3 linked regions of the Homo sapiens genome follow. The protein of the gene in region 1 purifies or fractionates together with the protein of each later gene. This does not show direct contact. Each region holds a gene or a part of one and is shown on either strand. Other genes may lie near its edges. The genes, in order: DNAJC16, IFT88 and KLC1.

Region 1 (3,730 bases):
TGTATCTCAGAGTTCTTATAAATAGTATTTTTCATCAGTCATTAAAGTTCAAAATATTTTCTAATATCTGATAGGCGTTCTTGTTTTGGTTTTTTTTTTTTCTTTTTTAGTCAGTCTTGCTCTGTCACCCAGGCTGGAGTGTAGTGATGTCATCATGGCTCACTGCAGCCTTGGCCTCCTATGCTCAAGTGATCCTCACCCTTCAACCTCCCAAGTAGCTGGGACTACAGGCACATGCCACCATGCCCAGCTAACAACTTTTTTTTTCCTTTTTTTTCTTTTATGAGACAGGGTTTCACTCCCGTTGCCCAGGCTGGTATGCTCTCCCAGCCTCAAGCAGTCCTCCTGCCTCAGCCTCCTGAGTAGCTGGGACTAAGGCCACGCCTGGCTAATTTTTGTACTTTTAGTAGAGACAGGGTTTCACTATGTTGCACAGGCTGGTCTTGAACTCCTGACCTCAAGTGATCCACCTGCCTTGACTTCCCAAAGTGCTGGGATTACAGGCATGAGCCACCATACCCAGCCCTTTTTTTTTTTTTTTTTTTTTTTTCTTGAGACAGGGTCTCAGTCTGTCACACAGGCTAGAGTCCAGTGGTGTGATCCTAGCTCACTGCAGTCTCTTAAGTCTTGGGCTCAAGCAGTCCTCCCACCTCCACCTCCCAGGTAGCTGGGATTGCAGGCATGCACCACCATCATGCCTGGCTAATGTTTTTTTATTTTTAGTAGAGACAAGATCTCATTATGTTGCCCAGGCTGGTCTCGATCTTCTAAGCTCAAGCAATCCTCCTGCTTCGGCCTCCCAAAGTTCGGGGATTATAGGAGTGAGCCACTGTGCCTGGCCTTTTGTTTGTTTGTTTTTAATTTTTTGTAGAGATGGGATCTCTCCATGTTGCACAGGCTGGTCTCTAACTCTTGGGTTCAAGGGATCCTCTTGCCTTGGCCTCCCAAAGCATTTGGGTTAGAGGAATGAGCCTCCATACCTGGCCGTGTTTCTTAATTTCCAAACATAAAGGGAAATGTTTACATTTCTGGTTTGCATTTTAAATGGAATTCTAGGTTAATTACCTTGTGGTCAGAATACCTGCTGTCAATGATTTCAATCCTTTGAAATGTGTGAAAGTTAGCAATAAAATGGTCACACGGTTTTGTAACCTGCCTTTTATACTTTGCAACATTGTTGCTTTGGGATTTATTTTTAATTGCCCAGTTCGCTACAAATCCTGAATGGAAATAATTTTGCCTAAAATTCAAAATGATTGACTTTTCGTTTTGGGTTTTTGTTTTGTTTTGTGTTTGGTTTTGTTTTGTTTTTGAGATGGAGTCTCGCTCTGTCGCCCAGGCTAAAGTGCAGTGGCGTGATCTCGGCTCACTGCAACCTCCGTCTCCCAGGTTCAACTGATTCTCTTGCCTCAGCCTTCCAAGTAGCTGGGACTACAGACACACGTCACCATGCCTGGCTAATTTCTGTATTTTTAGCAGAGACGGGGTTTCACTATGTTGGCCAGGCTGGTCTCAAACTCCTGACCTCGTGATCTACCCACCTCAGCCTCCCAAAGTTCTAGGATTTCAGATGTGAGCCACCACGTCCGGCCATGACTGACTTTTTTAATTTGTCAGCATAAAACAGTGAATAAAAATTCTCCAGTGGAAAGTGTACTTGATTTTCCCTTTGACCCGAAATAGCTGCATCATTGCTTTCAGCCCTGCATTGCTGAAATAGATCACCACATGTTTATTCGCTCAAACAGGTCTGTCTTGTTTGGTTATATTACTTTAGCCAAGGTCAGCTACGTTTTTATTAAGCTGGTAAGTAAAGAAAGCCCATCTATTTGCATTGAGAACACTGCATAAAATCTAGCTGATTCTTGGTTTTTCTCTAGGCCCGAGGTATGAAGAAGCAAATCATTGACGACTTCATCACCCGAAACAAATATCTATTGGCAGCCAGGCTCACCAGCCAGAAGTTGTTCCATGAACTCTGCCCTGTGAAACGGTCGCATCGACAGAGGAAGTAAGGACTTAAGGCTTTGCCTCTGCTTGTTATTACAATAGAAGGATCATGATTCATTTTACTATAGGGTGACTAGACATCTGCCCTGTAACATTGAGAACTTATTCTTCATTTAACAAATACTGGGCCGGGCATGGTGGCTCATGCCTGTAATCCCAGCACTTTGGGAGGCCGAGGAGGGCGGATCATCTGAGGTCCGGAGTTCAAGACCAGCCTGACCAACATGGAGAAACCCCATCTCTACTAAAAATACAAAATTAGCCGGGCATGGTGGCTTATGCCTGTAATCCCAGCTACTAGGGAGGCTGAGGCAGGAGAATCACTTGAACCTGGGAGGCAGAGGTTGCGGTGAGCCGAGATCATGCCATTGCACTCCAGCCTGGGCAACAAGAGTGAAACTCTGTCTCAAAAAAAAAAAAAAAAAAAACACTGATTAGTGACTGTGATGGTAATCATACTAATATGATGTATTAGTCCAGGGCACTTTAGCACCAAATTGTCAGATGTGCCAGCCTGTCCTAGTGGTCAGAGAAGATTTCCCTAAGATGTAACATTTCAGCTGAGACCTGAAGGATGAGCACAGTTTAGCCAGGCGTCTGGGATAGACTGGGTCACTTTACAGAAGCACAGAATATGGAAGAGTGACTGTCCCTACTAAAGCATTCCACACAGGGTGAGTCTTTGGAGGTCTTGGGAAGGAGCAAGGATAACAATTAAACAGTAGGGAAGTACAGAGTATTGAGGAAATGGATTGGTGGGAATCGGGAAGGCTAAGTTACATGTATTCAATAAAGTAGGAAGAGTTATTATACAAAGTATCTAAAAAGTCTAGAAATTCAGGGAATGTATTCATTACACCTTCTCAGGTGAATGAATCAGTAGCTTTAAATTTAGGGCTGTTTCATCTGTAAAAGGTATCTGGATATGGAAGGAAAACATATCAATCATGTAACTTGAAAATATAAAACATAATTTCCCTGTGTGTCTAGGCTTTTCAGATTCCTTTATAGTCTTAAGAGCGAAGAAAAAAATGACTTAAATATAAAAAAAGAATATCCTGGACTGTAAGGATTGTTGTTTACACAGCCTTCAAAAAATATCCCAAATCCACACACTTCTCACTTTTTTTAACCACTGCCACCCTGGAACAAGCCACCATCGTCTCCCAGCGAGACCCCCCTGGCAGCCTTCTAACTAGTCTCTCTGCTCCATTCCACTCTTGTACCCTCCAGGCAGATGTCCACACGTCAGCCAATAATGTTTGAAAATGCAAATCAGATCCAGTCACTCCCCATCCTGGGGTCTTTGCACTTGTAGTCTCTCTACCTGGGATGCTCTGACCCCATTTCCTGTCATAACAATGTCACCTTTTCAGTTGGCACTTCCCTGACCAACCTGTCTGATGGAGCCTGGCTTCTACCCACTCTGGCCTCTCTCTGTCCCCTTTTCATCTTTTTTTTTTTTTTTAATATATAGCACTTGTTGATACCTGTCATAATATATCTGTTTTCTGTCTTCCCCACTGGAATATAAGCTCCATGAGGGCAATAATATTGTCTATATTACCTGACATATACTAAGTGCTCAGTAAATATTTTTGGGAGAATGAATAGCTAAACTTTCCATTGGAACCTTGCAAAGGAAGCCGTTCAGAATGAGGCTCAGTGGCCTCTGGCCTGAGAGAGATTTGACCAGCCCTCCCTATACTGGAAGAACTAG
Region 2 (3,500 bases), on another chromosome or scaffold:
ACTAAAGAGTTCAGAATTTTAAAGCTAATCCATGTCTTTTTCTTTTAGGATTAAAATAATGCAGAATATTGGAGTTACATTTATTCAGGCTGGTCAGTATTCAGATGCTATTAATTCATATGAGCACATAATGAGCATGGCACCAAATCTGAAGGCAGGCTACAACCTAACTATCTGTTATTTTGCTATTGGAGACCGAGAAAAAATGAAGAAGGCATTCCAAAAATTGATTACTGTTCCATTAGAAATTGATGAAGATAAATATATTTCACCAAGTGTGAGTATGAAAAAGACATTTCTGTAGCCACTTCCCACTTATCTGTGCTTTTCTGTTTTCAGAATGAGAAAGCCAGAATAGATGACTTCTTGGGTTTTTCCCAGGCCTGTATCAATGTGTTTTATTATTGATGTATTTCATTTTTTATTTAAATTGGGTTGAGAATGAGACTCTATTGAAATGGGGTAGAGATTATGGTTAAAACAGACTGCACAATTTTAGTAAAAAAATCATTAAAAATAAGATTCCATGTCATTCATTAAGCATAATATCTTTTTTTTTTTTTTTTTTTTGAGACAGAGAGCCTGCCTTCCAGGCTGGAGTGCAGTGGTGCAGTCTCAGCTCACTGCAATCTCTGCCTCCCAGGCTCTGGCAATTCTCATGCCTCAGCCTCCTGAGTAGCTGGGATTACAGGCATGCGCCACCATGCCCGGCTAAGTTTTTTATTTTTAGTAGAGAAGGGGTTTTGCCATGTTGCCCAGGCTGGTCTTGAACTCCTGGCCTCATGTGATCCACCTGCCTCCACTTTCCAAAGTGCTGGGATTACAGGTATGAGCCTGGCCAAGGGTAATATCTTGACCAAGAAACCTCCAAATCCTTATTTCACCTATTAAGAGCCATTGTGGAGCAGAGGGAACCTCAACTGTGTATAAATATCTCAAGAGCGAAGGCTGGGCGCAGTGGCTCACACCTGTAATTCCAGCACTTTGGGAGGCTGAGGTGGGCAGATTGCGAGGTCAGTAGTTTGAGACCAGCCTGACCAACAGGGCGAAATGCTGTCTCTACCGAAAATACAAAAATTAGCTGGGTATGGTGGTGGGCGCCTGTAATCCCAGCTACTTGGGAGGCTGAGGCAGGAGAATTGCTTGAACTTGGGAGGTGGAGGTTGCAGTGAGCCAAGATTGTGCCACTGCACTCCATCCTGGGTGACAGAGCAAGACTCTGTCTTGAAAAAAAAAAAGTGAAATAAATTCCTTATCCTTACTCATAGAGTGGAACATAATGCAGTTATCAAAAGTCATATTTTCAAACACCTAGAGAAATATTATATAATGTTAAGTGAAAACATACAGCTATGCACACTTATACATGAACATAAACTGGAAGAATTGACACCAATATAAAACAGTAGTTTCTGAGCTATGAGATTGTAAATGCTTTTGAAATATTTTCCAGATTTTTACAAATAAAATATTGGCATACTGTATATTAGTTTAAGGAAAATTGCCTCTATTTGTAGATAAAAATGGTACATTTTCAATTTCACAGAGTTGAACTTTTAATAGATTTTCTTAACAGATTATATTAGCTGGGCATGGTGGCGGGTGCCTGTAATCCCAGTTACTAGGGAGGCTGAGGCAGGAGAATCACTTGAACCCGGAAGGTGGAGGTTGCAGGAGCCGAGATCGCACTATTCACTCCAGCCTGGGTGACAAGAGCAAAACTCCATCTCAAAAAAAAAAAAAAAAAGATTATAAGAGTACTGTAGCATAGCAGAGTATAGGCTCTGAAGCCAGATGCCTTGGCTCTCCTACTCAGCTCTTACTCTCCCTGTGTCTCAGTTCTTTTATATATGTAATGGGATTAACTATTATAACCTATCTTACAGGGTTAAGGTGAGGATTATAGGTGAGGATTAAATGAGTTAATGCATGTGAAATGCTTAAAATAGTACCTGGCAGCTGGGCACAGTGGCTCACACCTGTAATCCCAGCACTTTGGGAGGCCGAGGTGGGAGGATTGCTTGAGCCTGAGAGTTCAAGATCAGCCTGCGCAACATGGCGAAACTCCATCTCTACAAAAAAATACGAAAATTAGCCAGGCTTGATGTTGCACACCTGTAGTCCCAGCTACTTGGGAGGCTGAGGTGGGAGGATCACCTGAGCCCGAGGAGGTCAAGGCTGCAGTGAGCCGTGATCACACCCCTGCACACTAGCTTGGGTGACAGAGTAAGACCTTGTCTCAAAAAAATAAAAAATTAGCCAGCCTGGTGGTGTGCACCTGTAGTCCCAGCTACTCTGGAGGCTGAGGTGGGAGGATCATCTAAGCCCGGGGAGGTCAAGGGTTTAGTGAGTTGTGATCACAACATTGCTCTCCAGCCTGGATGACAGAGTGAGACCTTGTCTCAAAAGTAAAATAACAAATAAAAAAAATATATATTAGCCAGGCATGGTGGCACATGTCTGTAGTCCCACCTACTCGAGAAGCTGAGTGGGAAGATGGCTTGAGCCCAGAAGTTGAGACTGCAGTGACCCATGATCATGCCACAGTGCTCCAGTCTGGGCAACAGAGCAAGACTCTGTCTCAAAACAAAACTAACCAAACAAAAAAAATGTATGTGAAAGATAGTTAAGTGCTGGGCAAATGTTAATTATTATATATTATTTTCATATTGAGAAAAAATAATATATGTTGTAAAATCATCTGTGTTTTTAATGGGGAGTAGAGATATGGATCATACTAAGTAATTGATGATTGAAGCATTTATATTTGAGTTTAGAATTAAAGTATTACATATTTGTACTAACAACCCCAGCTTCTGTGTACTTGGTCCTAATCTTTCCATCCTGATCCTTTTATCAGCTTCTTAGAATAGGTTAGTTCAATGGAGAATGTGATTGGTAATCAGAAATATGAAAAAGAAAGTTCTAATTTACATAAGGGAAAATAGAAGGATTAATTTACTCTCCCTTTTTTAAAACTAATTAGTAGGGAGGCTTATTGGAAATTCAAGTTCGTGGCTGGACATGATGGCTTATGCCTATAGTCCCAATACTTTGAAAGGCTGAGGTGAGCAAATTGCTTGAGCCAAGGAATTGAAGACCAGCCTGGGCAAAATGGTGAAACCTCATCTCTACAAAAAATACAAAAATTAGCCAGGCATCATGGCATGCCCCTGTAGTCCCAGCTACTTGGGAGGCTGAGGTGGGAGGATCACCTGAGCCCAGGGAGGTGGAGGCTGCAGTGAGCCATGATCATGCCACTGCACTGCAGCCTGGGCAATAGAGTGAGGCTGTATCTCAAAACAAAACAAAACAAAAATTAAGTTCTTGCTGTTTACTTCTGAATTATTCTTTTTTTCTTCCATTTTATTTTACCAGGATGATCCTCATACTAACTTAGTAACTGAAGCTATAAAAAATGATCACCTCAGGCAAATGGAACGTGAAAGGTAATATTTTAAACTTAATAACGTAGTTATTAATTACATTATTTAAAATAT
Region 3 (3,730 bases), on another chromosome or scaffold:
CTAGGAGCATAAGAGCACAAACAGCTAGGAGCTGGCTGGCAGCAATCTGTTCTCTCTTTAGAACATACATCTGCCCATCCCTCTCATAACATAATAACCAGGTTATTATCCTCCTAGGTTTAAAACCTGAAACTCCAGAAGGTGGGACCTTTTCTTCCTTCTTTTTTTAAAACTCTTATCTGCGACACCAAAAAAGCAAGTTTAAATTCATGTCACCTGTTCTCAAGGTAACAGAACTTGAGAAATAATACGTTCACAATATCCAAACAGAGCTACAGTTCTGCAACTCAAGGCTGTAACATGGTTAGGATGAAGACTCTAAAATCAGGGTGTGGGCAGTCACTTCCTCTATGAAAGCAGAAACCGCTGGCCAGCAGCCCCTCTTCTGCTCTATTCACTCACTAAACTAGAGAATGCTAAGAAAGAAGCAAAGCTTTGGTATATTTAATTTTACCTAAGATATGCTGACAGAGCCAGAAGTTATCAGGAGAGAGTATTTAAAAACCTAGATGTTTCCAGTGTTTTCATCTCTATGTCAAGCATGATATTATAGAAACAAAGGTTAGTCAAAGATATGAAGCAATCTGGCCCTGGGATTGCAGAGACCATCACCCACTGGCCAGTGTCCATTCTCCTTCCTTAGGCTTAAGGACCTGCCACTGTAAGTGGGAAGACAACATTCCCCAGTCTCCCACTCACCCAGGTACAGCCATAAGGTCTGGCCAATGCAATGTAAGCACTGCTGTACACATCATCAAAGCAGCAGCCTTCAAGGAAGGAGGCACGTCCTTCCTTTCCCTTCCCCTATGCTAGAACAGGGCCACATGGAGCTCACTCTCAGTCCCCAAGACAGGCTGCCAAGGTGCAGTGTGGCAGATGTTAGGAACCTGAGTATCCCCGATGACTGTGTAGCTACAGAACCCGTCCAGGAGAGTGTACCTCAGTACTTATTTGACAAACATCTTGTGGTTTAAGCCACTGTTTTTGTTTTTTTGATACTGGCAGCCAAATCAAATCCTAAATGATACACAGCAGTATCCACTATTTTGGATCCGCTTTTCAAAATTCAGAGAGGCCCTGAGGTCAGGAGTTCAAGACCAGCCTGGCCAACATTTTAGTTTCTACTAAAAATACAAAAAATTAGCCAGGAATGGTGGTATGTGCCTGTAATCCCAGCTACTTGGGAGGCTGAGGCAGGAGAATCACTTGAACCCGGGGGACAGAGGTTGCAGTGATCTGAGATTGAGCCATTGCACTCCAGCCTGGGCGGCGAGAGCAAACACTGTCTCAAAAAAATAAAAATAAAAATAAAATTCAGAGGCCGGGCATGGTGGCTCGCGCCTGTAATCCCAACACTTTGCTGAGGCAGGTGGATCACGTGAGGTTGGGAGTTCAAGACCAGCCTAACCAACATGGAGAAACCCTGTCTCTACTAAAAATACAAAATTAGCCAGGTGTGGTGGCCCATGCCTGTAATCCCAGCTACTTGGGAGGCTGAGGCAGGAGAATCATTTGAGCCCAGGAGGCAGAGGATGCAGTGAGCCGAGACTGCATCACTGCACTCCAGCCTGGGCAGCAAGAGCAAAACTCCATCTCAATCAATCAATCAATACAATTCTGATAGGCCCAAATCAATAGTAATTTATTAACATACAGAACACATGATCTGTTTTGTTTTGTTTTTTCTTTGAGAAAAAGTCTCGCTCTGTCACCCAGGCTGGAGTGCAGTGATGCAATTTTGGCTCCCTGCAACCTCTGCCTCCCAGGTTCAAGTGATTCTCCTGCCTCAAGCCTGCCTAGTAGCTGGATTACACACGCCAGCCACCAGGCCCGGCTAATTTTTGTATTTTTAGTAGAGTCAGGGTTTCGCTATGTTGGCCAGGCTGGTCTCAAACTCCTGACCTCAAGTGATCCACCTGCCTCAGCCTCCCAAAGTGCTTGGATTACAGGCCTGAGCCACACCGCACTCGGCCTGGATCTGTTATTCTATAATCATCTTTCCTCTTCTTTAGTGAAACTGCTTATTTCAAACAAGTCTCCATTTTACCATCAAAAGTTCCTGATAACGTCTGAGTCATTCTCACTCGTACCTGTGCCTCACTCAGGCCGAGCTCCAACATCTCCAGTGACTTCCGGATCATGTTTGATTTCTCCTCCACCAAATTACTTTCATCATCTTTCTTCAAACACTTCAGTGTCTCCAGCAAACTTTGTAAAATGGAATTGTGCTCATTCTTCAAAGCTTCCAGCCCCTGAATTACTTGCTTTGTCTTAGAAATAATTTCATCCTGTGTAAGCTTCTCCAACTTGTCTTCCTTTATGTACACCATTGTGGACATGTTGTCATACATTCTGGAATGAAAAAAGAAAAAGAAATTAGATCCCTCATTACAGGTTTCATTTCTGTTACATCAAGTAAATATGAAAATTTTTTAATTAACATTTTATAGGGGAATAATAAATATGCACATTTGTAATTTATGACCTTGAAATACCATATTCTGCAGTTTCTGTTTTTCCTTTGCAGACACATTTAATTACTTTTCTGGTTTATGTCTTAATTCTTTTTTATGACAGCAACTGAAATTAATGCCAAAGATTAAAAGCAGCAAAACATCTAAATGGCATTTCCAAAACACATAGCCTCGGTGAACAACATTTTTTCTCAGAATGTTTGCAAGCCTTTTTCTCTTCCTAATGAAATGCAGGAAGAACACTACATTCTTGGTAAAATGTTTAACTGGACAAAGGCTTGAAAAGGAGTCACACAGCTGGAAGAAGAAAGAAAAACCAGCCAAAGAACATGGAACAGGAAGAGCAGCAGGGGAGGAGCAGACCTGGAAGACACAGGGCATCAAGGACAGGTGCAGCACGGTCACCGGGCAGGCTCACAGATGAGGATGGCACAGCGAAGCACCACCAGGGCCAGGCCCAGGGTGATGTGATGCAATGTCTGGAAGGGGCTTTCAAACACCAAAGTGAGAAAGAAAAGGGGGAGGAAAGGGGAATATAAAAACAGCATCATTTGTGCTGTTGTGCCTGACAGCCGCTGTCACTGAGCAATGGTTCCCTCTGCTAGCCTCTCTCCTTTTTTCTAAGTCTTAAAAACCCATAGTTAAGTTTAAAAAACAGAAAGATAGTGAGCAGTGATCTTTTTCGGCACAGTGACAGGGATGGAGGCAAGATTACACGTCAGAGTTATTTCCTTCACAGCACTGCCACTGTCTAAAATCTCACGATTCATTAAGTGTCTAATGTCACCTTGAATATAAGCTCTTATTTAAAAAGGCAGGACAGCCAGGCATGGTGGCTCATTCCTATAATTCCAGCACTTTGGGAGGCCAAGGCAGGCGGATCACTTGATGGCAGGAGTTCAAAACCAGCCGGCCAACACGGCGAAACCCTGTCTCAACTAAAAATACAAAAATTAGGTGAGTGTGCTGGCACACGCCTGTGGTCCCAGCTACTCAGGGGGCTGAGGCACGAGAATCACTTGAGCCCGGGAGGCAGAGGTTGCAGTGAGCCAAGATCTCACTACTGCACTCCAGCCTGGGTGACAGAGCGAGACTCTGCCTAAATAAATAAATAAAAATAAATGAAGTAAAATTAGCTGGGTGGTATGTGCAGGTATTCCTTGCTACCCAGGAGGCTCAGTGAGGCACAAGGATCGCTTGAGTCCAGGAATTTGAGGTGACAGTCAGCTATGATGGTACCTCTGCACTCTAGCCTG

What was found.
Region 2: the proteins of DNAJC16 (region 1) and IFT88 purify together in Homo sapiens (co-immunoprecipitation; one large-scale study listed by IntAct). This does not show direct contact.
Region 3: the proteins of DNAJC16 (region 1) and KLC1 purify together in Homo sapiens (affinity purification with mass spectrometry, with the first as the bait; one large-scale study listed by BioGRID). This does not show direct contact.

The regions. Positions count from the first base shown.
Region 1 is NC_000001.11:15,557,646-15,561,375, forward strand, and holds part of DNAJC16 (dnaJ homolog subfamily C member 16 isoform 1 precursor), read left to right. Parts: intron 1-1,880; coding exon 1,881-2,011; intron 2,012-3,730. UniProt on the Homo sapiens protein: Plays an important role in regulating the size of autophagosomes during the formation process.
Region 2 is NC_000013.11:20,601,657-20,605,156, forward strand, and holds part of IFT88 (intraflagellar transport protein 88 homolog), read left to right. Parts: intron 1-48; coding exon 49-277; intron 278-3,378; coding exon 3,379-3,449; intron 3,450-3,500. UniProt on the Homo sapiens protein: Positively regulates primary cilium biogenesis. Also involved in autophagy since it is required for trafficking of ATG16L and the expansion of the autophagic compartment.
Region 3 is NC_000014.9:103,653,186-103,656,915, reverse strand, and holds part of KLC1 (kinesin light chain 1), read right to left. Parts: intron 2,353-3,730; 5' UTR 2,352-2,352; coding exon 2,091-2,351; intron 1-2,090. UniProt on the Homo sapiens protein: Kinesin is a microtubule-associated force-producing protein that may play a role in organelle transport. The light chain may function in coupling of cargo to the heavy chain or in the modulation of its ATPase activity.